Linked DNA regions of Homo sapiens: region 1 is reported to be linked to region 2. Evidence: microRNA targets listed by miRTarBase, many of them from high-throughput screens and not tested one by one. Region 2 holds a microRNA gene; the other region holds the end of a gene's coding sequence.
Evidence for each region. The annotated mature microRNA hsa-miR-188-3p reads CUCCCACAUGCAGGGUUUGCA and lies in region 2 at 5,027-5,047, shown strand. An mRNA with a match to its seed (bases 2 to 7 or 8) in the 3' UTR can be bound and repressed. Matches are read on the target gene's strand: a 7mer-m8 pairs with bases 2 to 8, a 7mer-A1 pairs with bases 2 to 7 and ends in A, and an 8mer does both.

Region 1 (7,103 bases), not on the chromosome of region 2:
AGAAAACATAAAATAACCACGCCAAAAAGAGGAACGAAGCCAAAATGGGAGGATAAAATAACAAATATTACTCCAGGTAGTAACCTCAGGATGGAACAGGTTTTGCTGGAATTTTTAGCTAAAGCTTACCTATTACTTATGTTTTTCTTCTTGCAGATTTTAAACAAGTACGATTCCTGGATCTCATTCCTCAGCAGTGTAAGATATTGGATGGCTTTTAATATAGAAAGGGCCTGTCAGTCTTATTTTGGGTGTGTTCAGTGCATTAGTGGACCTCTGGGAATGTACAGAAACTCCTTGTTGCATGAGTTTGTGGAAGATTGGTACAATCAAGAATTTATGGGCAACCAATGTAGCTTTGGTGATGACAGGCATCTCACGAACCGGGTGCTGAGCCTGGGCTATGCAACAAAATACACAGCTCGATCTAAGTGCCTTACTGAAACACCTATAGAATATCTCAGATGGCTAAACCAGCAGACCCGTTGGAGCAAGTCCTACTTCCGAGAATGGCTGTACAATGCAATGTGGTTTCACAAACATCACTTGTGGATGACCTACGAAGCGATTATCACTGGATTCTTTCCTTTCTTTCTCATTGCCACAGTAATCCAGCTCTTCTACCGGGGTAAAATTTGGAACATTCTCCTCTTCTTGTTAACTGTCCAGCTAGTAGGTCTCATAAAATCATCTTTTGCCAGCTGCCTTAGAGGAAATATCGTCATGGTCTTCATGTCTCTCTACTCAGTGTTATACATGTCGAGTTTACTTCCCGCCAAGATGTTTGCAATTGCAACAATAAACAAAGCTGGGTGGGGCACATCAGGAAGGAAAACCATTGTTGTTAATTTCATAGGACTCATTCCAGTATCAGTTTGGTTTACAATCCTCCTGGGTGGTGTGATTTTCACCATTTATAAGGAGTCTAAAAGGCCATTTTCAGAATCCAAACAGACAGTTCTAATTGTTGGAACGTTGCTCTATGCATGCTATTGGGTCATGCTTTTGACGCTGTATGTAGTTCTCATCAATAAGTGTGGCAGGCGGAAGAAGGGACAACAATATGACATGGTGCTTGATGTATGATCTTCCATGTTTTGACGTTTGCAGTCACACACAACACCTTAGTTCCTCTAGGGGCTGTACAGTATTGTGGCATCAGATAATGCCACCAAAGGAGACATATCACTGCTGCTGGGACTTGAACAAAGACATTTATATGGGTTTATTTTCATTCTGCCAAAGTAAAACAATACATCAACAAGAAGAAACTCAGATTTAACCTGTTATTTCTATGAAAATGGGATGAATTCTTTGTTTATGCACTTTTTCCTTACTGTGCATCCGCCTGAAAGTGTTTTGCCCTATATACCTCACTAGCCATGCTTTATGTGGGTTATCATGGAAGAAAAGGATTTTGGAAACTCAAGGAAAAGTTCTTTCAACCTATACAACCTAACTTATGGACTGTTTTGATAGATGATAATTTTTTTTTTTTAGGAAGGATTTTCTTTTTAACTTTACCAAATGAAATGCCAAAGGAAGTTTTAAAGGCCGTTGGCTGTGCTGTATTTTGATATAATTGTACTGTGTTTTTAAATTTTGTATGCCAATCTTAAAGACAAATTTTGCATATTCTCTATTTTACTTTTCTGCCAAAATAAACCTGTTCTTCCTTTTTTAAAATAAAATAAGTTCTTAAAAAATTTATACTTAAAAAATCCTGCCCAAAATGTGAAGCTTGGTTGACTGATGTTCATGATAGAAAGAATAAAATGTTTCTCTCTCTCTACCTTTTAAAATTGAATAGTTTATTTCTGTGAAAGAAGTATTTAAACTTTCAATATTTTAACTTTTTGTTTTTATTTCTTTTAGAAAAGGCCAATATACCTATCACACTTTGGAAGTAAAAATACACACTTTCGTGTGTACCTAAAAAAAAAATCGTTGAAAATCAAGGCCAAAGGTAGTGCAATTTTTTCATTAAGATTTAAAAAAAAGGGAATGATAGTCTTTGAAAGAAAACAGTAGGCATCCAGCACTGGACAAAACATGGGTATCAAAGATGAATAATCTTTGGAGATTCTGGCAGTGTTTTCCCAGAACAAGTCAAGTGGAAAGTGGAGAAATTATCTGTATAATTTTGGACACATACAATGCAGTTTATCAAAGGTTTTGTTCTGTGGCCTGAATTTACTGGGTCCTACCTACACATTGAACATGTTTTGCCTGTCTTTTTTTTTTTTTTCAACTTGCCAGTTCACTTTACATGTTAGTATAATGTTTACACGGGTGAGTTGGATAAATTATAAAACATATAAATTCAAAATTGGCAGATAGAATCACCAAGTATCTATCCTCTTTTACTTTCAAATGAGGAATTTTGTTTTTCTGAATTACACAGATCATCACTTCCTATTTCCTGTTCTGGACCTGTATAAAAATGTCTACACAGTAGAAGTGACATCAAGGTTTAATAAGTATATCAATGATTGGCACATATAAAAATTGTTGAACCACATACTCTGAACTTGGCTAATTTAGTTACTGCAAGGCCTCCATTATCCAGTTTTATTTTTTACACGATTGACCTTGCCTTGTAGCTGGTGCTGTGTAGACCTGTGTTGAAAACACAATCGGAATATATGAATAATTGAATAAACAGCATTATGGTGAGGCAGAGACACATGGAGAAGTGTTAAAAAAAAAATGGGCTTCCTGCCTTTCTGCCTCTTTTTTATGCAGTCATCTATGTTACATCTATCCTGCCTAAGAAAAAGCTGCACATCCTACCTTCAGAGTACAAAAAGGTACATCTGAGACTCAAGACTCTCACTGATTGGAGAGCTTGTGGAAAACAAAACACACCATGCCAATAAATGAGATGAAAACTTGAGTTTGCCTTTTTAACTATTTATGTTCTAAGTTAAGCTTTGATAACATTCAAATGTCAAATTCTCTCATTCTTATAAAAAGTTGAATTAATTGCCTGTATTTATTTTAGCAATTATTCAATGTATTTCCAGTATAGGATGTATAGTATAATTAATTTTTTGTAAATAAAATATTTTTGATAAGATTATTGCCTTTTTTTCTAAGGGAAGGGGGAACTTTGTTTTCCTGATTATAATGGTATGAATTTAGGAAGGGGGGGTTTTAAAAAAAATGATGGTTGGTAAAAAAGAATATGTCATTTAATGTTACTTATTATTAGGTAGAAATCCCTAAAACTGGTGTGGTTTGAAAATCTGGAAAACCACAGAGAGAGGAGAGAGACTGCTTAATTATCATTACCCTTGTCTATAATCTTTTTCTTCTGCTTCCCTTGAAAGCAGCACAAATTTAGACAATTTTTTAAATTATAGTAACTTATAGCAGGAAAAAAAATCAAAGATATGCAGAAATATGATAAGCAAGCTTGTTTATTTCAGCATTATTCAGAAATAATAAAACCTTAACCTAAAATCAAATGATGAGGGCAATAATTAAATAAATCATGGCATTTCTAAAAAATGGGACATCATTAGCTATTGAACACAATGTTCTCAGAGAACACGTGGATTTTGGAGAAATGTCACATTAAAAAAATAACCATTTTGTACAGTAACATCCCAATTTTATAAAAGTGAAGATGTTTAAACATGATTATCTCTAATACTGGGAATGACTGATTTATATTCTGTATATGTTTTTGTATTTTCCAAATACTATAAATATGTTTTTATAATCAGGAAAAAAAAGACAATAAATATCATCTTTTTAAAAAGTGGGTTGGGACATCTAACAGCATTTTCTGATTAGAGGAACTTTGATAGTAATTATCTCATTTTACCTCTTATCCCTCAAATTCATCTTATTTCCCAGTTCTTTTGTGTTATCTGTTTTCTAAGAATCCTTCATTACTTTTGTACTGCTACATTATAAACTATAGCCACTGAACATTATTGTCAGATAATCCAGAAATATTGATGGTTCTAAACTTAATAATTCACTGATGAAGTCACTTGGTGACAGTCTTTTAATGTAAAGAGCCTTAAAGTATACATTTTAGGACTGGGCATGGTAACACACGCCTGTAACTCCAGCAGTGTGGGAGGATTGCTTGAGGCCAGGATTTTGAGACTAGCCTGGGCAACATGGCAGGACCCAGTCTCTACAAACAATTTTTTTTTTTAATTAGCCAGGTGTGGGCGTTGCCTGTGGTCCCAGCTACTCAGAAGGCTGAAGTGGGAGGATTGCTTTAGCCCCAGAGGTCGAGGAGGCTACAGTGAGCTGTGTTTGCAGTACTGCACTGCAGTCTCGGCAACAAGAATGAGAACTTATCTCAAAAACAAAACAAAACAAAACAAAACAAAAAAAACCCCCACAAAACTATTCTTAATTCACCAGCATTACCAAAACAGGCAACAAGCCAGATATATCCTGCAGCCCATAGTTAATGACCCCTGCTCTTTAGAAATCTGTGGACTTATCTGTACCATTAAGTACTCACACTGACACCTAATTTTTGAGCACATACTATGTTTTAGGCACTACCAGAAGCATGCTTTATAGATTAGTTATTATGTCAGTCCCAAGAAGTTCCATTATTATTACCATTTTAAGCGAGGAAGCTGAGTGAAGTTTAAAGAAATTTGGTAACTTAATATTATAAAGCCAGTACATTGTAGTGGTGGAATTTAGGTCCAGACATTATGACATCAAGCTTGCCCCTTCAACTAATGCTACTCAGTATTTCATCCACTGTCCGGCAGCATCAGCAGCATGTGGGAATTTATTAGAAATGCAAGTTCGTAGCTTTACCCCAGGCCTACTGAATCAAATTCTCTGGAGAATCTGTTTAATAAGATTCCCATCCAGGTGACTTTTAAACACATTAAAGTTTGAGAAGCATTGCCCTAATCTAGTATCTTATATTGTTCCCTTCAAACCGCATATCATTTCGAAGATAGTTATTCATTCAAATATTGTATTCTCCCATTGAACTTTTCTACTTTAATATAATTTATGGGTGTTGGCAGATATCTGGTTTTAACTAAGTTTATTAAGTACCTGTTATAGGCTGGGCACTGTGGCTCACGCCTGCAATCCCAGCACTTTGGGAGGCCGAGGTGGGTGGATCACTTGAGGTCAGGAGTTCGAGACCAGCCTGGCCAACATGGTGAAACCCCGTCTCTACTAAATATGCAAAAATTAGCCGGGCATGGGGACTTATGCCTGTAATCCCAGCTACTCTGGAGGCTGAGGCGCGAGAATCACTTGAACCCGGGAGGTGGAGGTTGCAATGAGTGGACATCATGCCACTGCACTCCAAACTAGGCAACAGAGTGAGACTCTGTCTCAAAAAAAGAAAAAAGTTCCTGTCACGGGCAAGAAATGAAGTGGTGTACACTGTGTCTATACTCAAAGAGCTTACAATTGAGTAAGAGGGATATTTACACTGTAAGTAAGAGGGTAATTACACTGGGATTTGATGTGAAATAGAATAATACTCTTTATACAGAGTGGCATGGGATGTAAAAAGAAGAAGGTGAACATGTACAATTAGCCTCATAACGGCAGGTTTTAAGATAGCCTGGTATTTAGGTTGATTCTTTAAAGACGTGCAAACTTGGATGGGAATTAATGATTTTTCAGGTAAAAGAACATGAATACAGCGATAGTGGTGTGCTTTTAATATGTTGTCCTTTAAACAGAATTAACATTTAATTAAAGTGGAAGTTGTAGTTAACCAAGAGTGGGACATGACTATAGATAGTAAATTTGAAGGCCGGGCATGGTGGCTCACGCCTGTAATCCCAGCACTTTGGGAGGCCGAGGCAGGCGGATCACCTTAGGTCAGGAGTTCGAGACCAGCTTGGCCAACACGGCGAAACTCCGTCTCTACTAAAAATACAAAAATTAGCCGGGCGTGGTGGCACATGCCTGTAGTCCCAGCTACTCAGGATGCTGAAGCCAGAGAATTGCTTGAACCCAGGAGGTGGAGGTTGCAGTGAGCCGAGTTCACGCCATTGCACTCCAGCCTGGGCAACAGAGCAAGACTGTCTCAAAAAAAAAAAAAAAAAAAAAAACAAGTAAATTTGAAGATGGACGATAGAAGACCATAACACAACTGGGAGAAATACTAGAATGAGATATTTACATTACTTTTGATAGATGACACACCCATGGAATTTTTGGACAGGGTTCTAACATTGTCATAAAATAAGGCACTTTATGATGTTTGGTTTCAAAGATCTCACAGAAACAATTGTGTTTATAATTACGATTTGGCCTGAGCATGCTTGTAATAAACTGGTATTTCTCTCCCAGGCACCTGACCACATTCATTGTATTTCTTCCAAGGCTGCCTCTTGCTTTACATTCTCAGGTCATCGCCTCTTGCCAATTACCCAAGCACTCTCTTCAGCTTTGTTTTGGTATAAGAAGCCCGCAACCAGCTAGTTATTATAGTCATTTGATCCCACCTTTGCCATGTCATTCAAATTCATCTCTCATCCTTGTTAAGACTTTTTAAATCTCTTACCTGAACTGTTGAAAATACCTCCTGATGGCTGGGCGCAGTGGCTCTCGCCTGTAATACCAACACTTTGGGAGGCCGAGGCGAGCAGATCACCTGAGCTCAGGAGTTCGAGACAAGCCTGGCCAACATGGCAAAAACCCGTCTCTACTAAAAATACAAAAATTACCTGGGCATGGTGGCATATGCCTGTAGTCCCAGCTACTGGGGAGGCTGAGGCAGGAGAATCGCTTGAACCAGGGAGGCAGAGGTTGCAGTGAGCCAAGATCACGCCACTGCACTCCAGCCTGGCACAGAGTGAGACTCTGTCTAAAAAAAAAAAAAAGAAAAAGAAAATACCTCCTGACTACCTTTCTATTCTCCATTTCTGTTTCATCCAATGGATTCTTTGCATTTCTGTTAAAATTATCATTCTAAGGCCCAATTCTGAATACAAAGATTTAACTTCACCTCATTGTCAACAAAAGCATTAAATATGTAAGAAATTATTCAAGACTGATGATTATCTATTTTCTCCCTTGCAGTCCTTTACTCCTATTTTTCATGTCCTACTAAACTAGATTTTTTTGCTCCCTCTTGAACA
Region 2 (7,124 bases):
CTTTCTGACCTGCTTGGTACGTTTCGGGCCCAAAGTGTCAGAGTGTGGATTTTCACAATCCCCCTCCCACATTTTAAGTTTGCAGGCAAATGAACCTTAATGTGCCTTCTCTACTTCCCTCCCTCCCTCCTTCCCTCTCACACTCAGAGTGCCAGAAAGAAGAACCTGCTGACTCCACCACTCGTCTATATGTCTTGACTGTAGGAGAGAGAGCTTTCCTGATCCCATTCCTATTTGTGGAGTCTGTGGGAGAGCAAGCCATCTTGCCTTCTTGTTATTTCTCTCCTTCACCCATGCATGACACTGCAAAGGGTTTGCTGGCTTGAGTCTTCTACACACACACACACAGTCTGAGACATCTGATGTGTTCACCCTCCCATTTGCCTTGAATGGTAGTGTGTGTGTTTTTTAATTCCACTCTTATATACACAACTTACAGGAGAGTGAATTTTCTAGTGCCACCCCCCCGCCATAGGCTATGTGCCCCCTTGCTTTTTTTCACCCAGCATCCAGAGTCGAGATTGTTTAGTGCCCTTCTTACAGGCCTTGTTGGCAAGAGTGAGCATTATTATGGGACACCCTCCCCACCCCCGACACAGATGATGCACACAGGAGTACAAGATGATGAGGCTCCTGATCACCCCACGCCTCCTTAGACCTACGTCTGTGTACATCCTCTGTCTGTGAGGGAGAGAGGAGGTGACTCCTTACCTGTTTGTCTCACATGCCTCACACATTGGGGTGTGAGCTGTCTCAGTTCCCTCCCACACATGAGGTTTACAGATGTGCAAGCTTTCTGAGCTGTGCCCTGCCTCTTAAACCCAGCATGCCTTCTTAGTGCTCTTCCCACAAGCATGCATTATTGGAGAGTGGACTTTGCTTTTTTTTTTTTTTTTTAACTTGCTGAGTTGAAGTATTTGAAGGATAGTGGGCCTAAAAAAACTGGCTCTGGCACAGGCACATGTGCCTTCACATGTGTACACACATGTACACCACGAGGGAGATGAATCCTTCGGCCTGTTAGTGTTTGCTTTGTATGGTAGATGTGTTGAGGAATAAAAAAAATAATCTGCCCCTTTTAGCTGAGGGGAAAAATAAGTTCAGAAATGGCAGTTGATCCATTAAGGATGGTGGGCAGTTTCTAAGCTATACTCTGTTGGCCAGCAAGTTTAAAGACTAAAGAAAAAGTGTCAGTGTGAACACATATTTGGCTCTTTTCACTATAGTTGGTGTTGTCAAGCAGCTGATACCTGCGGAATAGAATATGAGAATTGTGCTACAACGAATACATTTGCTTTCTTAGTCTGTACATTAAAAGCCCCTTTTTTTACTTGTTTTAAAGGTTGTGGAGCATTGTTTGAATGACAGTTATTTACATTGTAAAAATAGTATGAAATTTATGATATTTTAAAAATTTGCTAGGATTCATCAGTGAGCATTCTTCCTATATCTGCCCTGTCTCTGCTCTCCACTCCCCCAGCTCTCCTGCCCCATGCAGGGGTGCAAGCCTCTCAAGCTATCCCATCCCACCTTGACCACACAGAACTACAGTGAGCTTTTTATTTTAAATATGCTTCCCCAAACCTGTTGGACTGTGGGTTTCCCCATCCGCCTCCTGCTTGCAGCCTCTCTCTCTAATCCTGCTTTTCTCTTTCTTTCTCTCATGTGCATACACTCATGATATGCATGTAAGGGAGACACCTGAGTTGCCCCATTGCATCCAGCATCGCAGGACTGTGAGCCTTCTATTGCTGCCACTCTCCTACCCCACGCATGGCTTAACCTAAAATAAAACTGACCTCCCAATTGGGAGGTTATTACAACCTCCCAATGCACACACTGGCTGGGCCACAGTGGCGTGTGAACCACTGTGTCAGCCACCTTATTACCCCTTTTCTGTGCATGCCCCCACACACATTTATGATAGGAGCTTGAGCCTCCTTATTCTCCATCCTTGCTCTTTCTCTCTTCCTTTTCCTCCCTCATCTCACATGTGTGTGCCAAGGATGTGCCAGAAAGTGGGTCCTTATCATTTTCAGTTCTCATACACATGTGGGTACACACAGCTTTAGGGTTCAGTGGTTAGGCCCACTGTCTTGGTAGTCAGATTACCTGTGGTAGAATCCTGGCGTGATCTGTAATGAGCTTTGTGATCCTAGACAAGTGACTTATCTTGTGTCTCAATTTCCACAACATGAAAATGAGATAACTAATTGTGCCAACCATATAGGTTTGTAATAAGCACTGAAGGAGGCGACGCATGTATTGGGATTAACATGTAATAAACTTCCTTAATCCATATGCTTTGCCTGGAGCAACTGATTCTCCATAGAAGAAAACTCACACCTAAGCTGCTTGGTCCCATTATTTGAAAATGTTTGGGAAGTACTGCCTTGGATGACTGTTTCATAATTCTTTCCTTTCCTCAAATCTGCAGTGTCACCTCCCTTCCTTCCTCCTCACTCTCAGCTGCTGACTTTGCTTTCTTCTTCCTTGAGAAAATGGAAGCCATCAGAAGGGACCCTCTGAAGTTCCTCTGACCTCTCCTCCATTACCTGCACATGTCCCTAAGTGTCAGCTCCTCCCCATTATGGTAGATGAATTACTGGCACATGTAGCCAGGACCAGTTCCTCCACTTGTATACTAGATTTCAACCCCTGTCACCTATTCAGTGACAGTGCTCCTGCAATTGATCCCCCTCTCCTTACTGCATCATCAACTGTTCTTTGTATACTGGAGTGTTTGTACCAATATCTAGATGTGCTGCCACATATCCTGTCTAAAAATAATTTTAAAAATTAAAAAGCACTACCTTCTCTACCCAAAAAGCTCCTCCAGTTTCTACTCATTTCTCTGTTCCTCTTTACAGAAAAAAAAAAAATTTTTTTGAAGGAGCTGATTGTACTCCATCTCTACTTCTATTTCTCCCATTTACTCTTTTTTTTAAATGTATACTTTAAGTTCTAGGGTACATGTGCACAACATGCAGGTTTGTTACATATGCATACATGTGCCATGTTGGTGTGCTGCACCCGTTAACTTGTCATTTACATTAGGTATATCTCCTAATGCTATCCCTCCCCCCTCCCCCCACCCCATGACAGGCCCCGATGTGTGATGTTCCCCTTCCTGTGTCCAAGTGTTCTCATTGTTCAATTCCCACCTATGAGTGAGAACATGTGGTGTTTGGTTTTCTGTCCTTGGATCCCTTCCTTACACCTTATACAAAAATTAATTCAAGATGGATTAAAGACTTAAATGTTAGTCCCATTTACTCTTGAAAACCCTCCATGTAAAACTGTAACCTGCAGCACTTAAATGACCCTGGTCAAGGTCCCCAGTGTCCTTCACATTTCCCAATTTACTGGGCAATGTTGTCATCTTACTTGACAGATCAACACACAGTTGATCACTCCCTCTGCCTTGAGACTCTACCTGCTTTCCAGGATTCCACACTCATGAGGTTGTCTTCTTACCTCACAAGCCTCTCTTTCTCAGTCTCTTGATGGTTTCTCCTCCTCTTCCTGAATTCTAAGTATTAAAGAGATATAGGGCTTAGTCTTCAGACTTCTTTTTTTTTTTTTAACTTCTCATTAGTCCTCAGCTGTTCTCATCTTGTCTTGCAACTCTAAGTACCATTTTATGTGGATGATTTCTGTGTTTGTATTTCCAGCCTGGACTTCTCTCCTGAATTCCAGATGCCTATGTCCAACTATGTACTGGACATCTGCCCCGAATGTCTAATAAGTATCTCAAAACTTTAACACATCCAAAGCTGAGGTCCTGGTTTTCCTCCCCCTCTCAAAAAGCCCTACTCCTCCCTCTGTGTTCTCCAACTCAGCAAACAGCATTTCCCAATTGCATATGCCAAGGATATGGAGAATTTTAATAAGCTAAAGGTTTTGGATTCATCTTTGACACTTTTTCCCCTCCATTCTCCAAATACAAACTGCTGTCAAATCTTGTTGGCTCTACTTTCAAAATACATGTCTAATCTGACCACACAGCCACTTCTCATACTTCTCACTTCCTCTATTATTTCCACACTAATCCAGCTTTTCCCTGGGCTGACAAGTGCAAGTTCTCTTGCGTCTGTCTGTCTGTCTGTCTCTCTGTCTCTGTCTCTGTCTCTGTCTCTCTCTCTCTCTCTCTGTGTGTGTGTGTGTGTGTGTGTGTGTGTGTGTGTGGTGTGTGTGTGGACACAAAGTGGTTGGTGGCTGAGAGCTTGAGCCTCCTTTTTTGAGTCCTCTTTCTAATGACCTGCATGCCAGATTCTAAGCTTTCTTACCATCTGTTCTCGTATGTGTGTTATTTCATCTGTAAAATAGGGATAATGATCACCTCATGGATATTTTATGAGAATAAATGAGCTATGTGTGAAAAGCACTTAAAACAGTGCTCTGCAAATGTAAATACTATACTGGTGTTAGGAATAAAAATAAAGGAAAAGAAAGAAGGAAGGAAAACAAATATGTTGTAGATAGTGAACATTTCTGAAGGTACATATGTGAATGTACACAAGCACACCTTCTCATTACAGCATGTCTGGGGCACAGTCATAGAAGTCCAAGGCATCTGGGATACGCATGCACACAGTATACAGGAGAGCAGACCTCCCGACTTGCTTTCTCTCCTCCATGCCTTGAGTGTAGGACCGTTGGCATCTTAATTACCCTCCCACACCCAAGGCTTGCAGAAGAGCGAGCCTTCTCTTCCCTCTCCAGTGCATAGGCATGAGCACATGGACAGGTACACCAAAGGGAGGTAGACCCTCTCTTACGTGCTCTGTATGTGGGGTACACTGTTAGCAGCCATCCCATCTGGATGACTGTCCTGCTTCCATGGCCACTGCTCCTAGTTTACCCATCAGCACTCCTGTGGCTATCTTGCTGCCCACTTGCACCCCCCAGGCCAGTGCCTCTTGCCTCCTAGAGCATACCCATATGTCGTGCCAAGAGAGCAAGCCCTTCCCTGCTCCCTCTCTCACATCCCTTGCATGGTGGAGGGTGAGCTTTCTGAAAACCCCTCCCACATGCAGGGTTTGCAGGATGGCGAGCCTCAGCTTTCCTTGCTCTCTTGTGCATGTGTATATACACATACGCACTCCTTCACCAAAAGAAAAACACACACCCATGTGGTGGGAAGGAGAATGACTCTCAGCCATGTCCTTTCTCCCATCTCAGTCTTACATGGATCCTGCAGGAGAGGGAGACTTCTCTTAGCTTTCTCTTGCACATGGTGCAGCCCCTCATACTCAGGGATAGGCACAGCCTAGAGAAGGAAGGGGGGTCTTTTGACCTGGTTCTGTCTTAGCGGCACCTAGAGGAGGAGAGAGAACCTTCTCAGGACTCCTGTACATGGGGCATGATGAAAAGGGAGTCTTCTAGCTAATTCTCACAAACCCAGTTTGTGAGGAAAATTGTGTCTATATCATAACCATATGCAAAGATGTAATATGCACACACATTTTGGGTTCAGAAAGTAGAATCCACTCACTGTGCCATGCCTTTCCATATGCACACTTGTTTGCTCAAGAGGGTGTGTGAAGATCTGTCTTCTTAGACACTCATGTAGATATGAGTCAGATTGTGAGTTTTCTCTGTTATCTCCCCAGACCCAGGATTTGCAGCCGATTCATTTGGTGAGCCACTCATTCATTCAGCAAATATTTATCGAGCAGCTACTGTGTGTTGGGTACTCCCCTATGCACCAGGGATACACCAGTGACCAAAAGACAAGAATCCCTGCCCTAGTGAGGGGAGGCAGGTAGTGAACAAAATAAGTAAGTAATAGATAGTGTGCCAATTGTTGATAAGTGCTCTGGAGAATAATAAGGCAGGAAAAGGGGACAAGGAGTGGGTGGGGGTAGTTACAGCATAGATGGTGGTGGAGAAGTTTCGATATCAAATAGGGTAGTCAGGAAAGGCCTACTGTGTTCTAGGAACAACAAAGAGCCATTGTGGCAGAAGCATAGGGCTGGGAAGTAGTAAGTTACAATGGAAAAAGGGAAAGCTGATAATTACTATGTATCTCTAAAATCTAAGGCCGCTTTTAAAAAAAAAATCATACCATTATCACACTTAAAAATAATTACCATCCAGGCACAGGGGCTCATGCCTGTAATCTCAGCACTTTGTGGGAGGCTAAGGTAGGCAGATCACCTGAGGTTAGGAATTCAAGACCAGCCTGGCCAACATGGTGAAACCCCGTCTCTACTAAAAATACAAAAATTAGTCAGGCCTGGTGGCAGGTGCCTGTAATCCCAGCTACTCGGGAGGCTGAGGCAGGAGAATCGCTTGAACCCGGGAGGCGGAGGTTGCAGTGAGCCAAGATCGTGCCACTGCGCTCCAGCCTGGGTGACAAGAGCGAGGCTTCATCTCAAAAAGAAAAAAAATTGCCAACAATTTTTTAATATCATCACATATCTGTTGTTCCCATTTCCACTTGTCTCAGAAATATCATAAATTAGGATCCAGATAAGGTCCATGCATTGCATTTGGTTGATATGTATCTTAAGTCCCTTTGAATTATATCTTTCCCTTCCATCTATATTTTTTCTTTCCTTATAATTTATTTGTTGGAAGAAAGTGGGCCATTCATCCTATACAGTTTTGCATAGTCTGGATTTTTGTGATCACATCCCTGTGATGTAGTTTACATGTTCCTTCTCCTTGTTTGTATTTCCTGTAAACTGATAGTTGCATCTGGAAGCCTGATCAAATTCAGGCTTAATTTTGAGGAAGGGGGAGCAGAACTACTTCCATTAAGAGGCACAAAATAACTGATGATCATCTTTCTGTGATGTTAGTTGCCACCGATGCTCAATTCTTAGAGCCGTTATTTCATTAGGGGTTGCAAAATGATGATATTCTAATCCCATTATTCTCTTGATTTATTAGCTGGAATACTTCTATAAAGAAAAACTTCCCTTCATCTGCTATTTGATCACCCAGTGTTGCCGTCTTTATAGGCAAGATAGGATAAATGTTTGGTTCTCTTTATTTATCAGTACTCAGAATAATGAGTTGGTTCACTAGCTTACTCTAAAGAGGATTTTTTAAAAAAACTATTATAATAAACTCATAGATTTAAATATATTTGGACTTTTAATCCATTGCAGTTC

Region 1: miRTarBase lists HAS2 as a target of hsa-miR-188-3p. The part of its 3' UTR that is shown has no 7-base or 8-base seed match.

The regions. Positions count from the first base shown.
Region 1 is chr8:121,608,092-121,615,194 of GRCh38, reverse strand. It overlaps HAS2 (hyaluronan synthase 2), which reads left to right. Exons shown (of 4, transcript NM_005328.3): 4 at 157-3,079. The coding sequence ends at 1,086. Among named protein-coding and RNA genes, the nearest start is that of HAS2, 30 kb to the left of the region's middle.
Region 2 is chrX:49,998,530-50,005,653 of GRCh38, forward strand. MIR188 (microRNA 188) reads left to right here and starts at 4,974; the gene lies at 4,974-5,059. All of the region lies in intron 3 of CLCN5 (chloride voltage-gated channel 5), which reads left to right. It overlaps MIR532 (microRNA 532), which reads left to right and starts at 4,619; the gene lies at 4,619-4,709.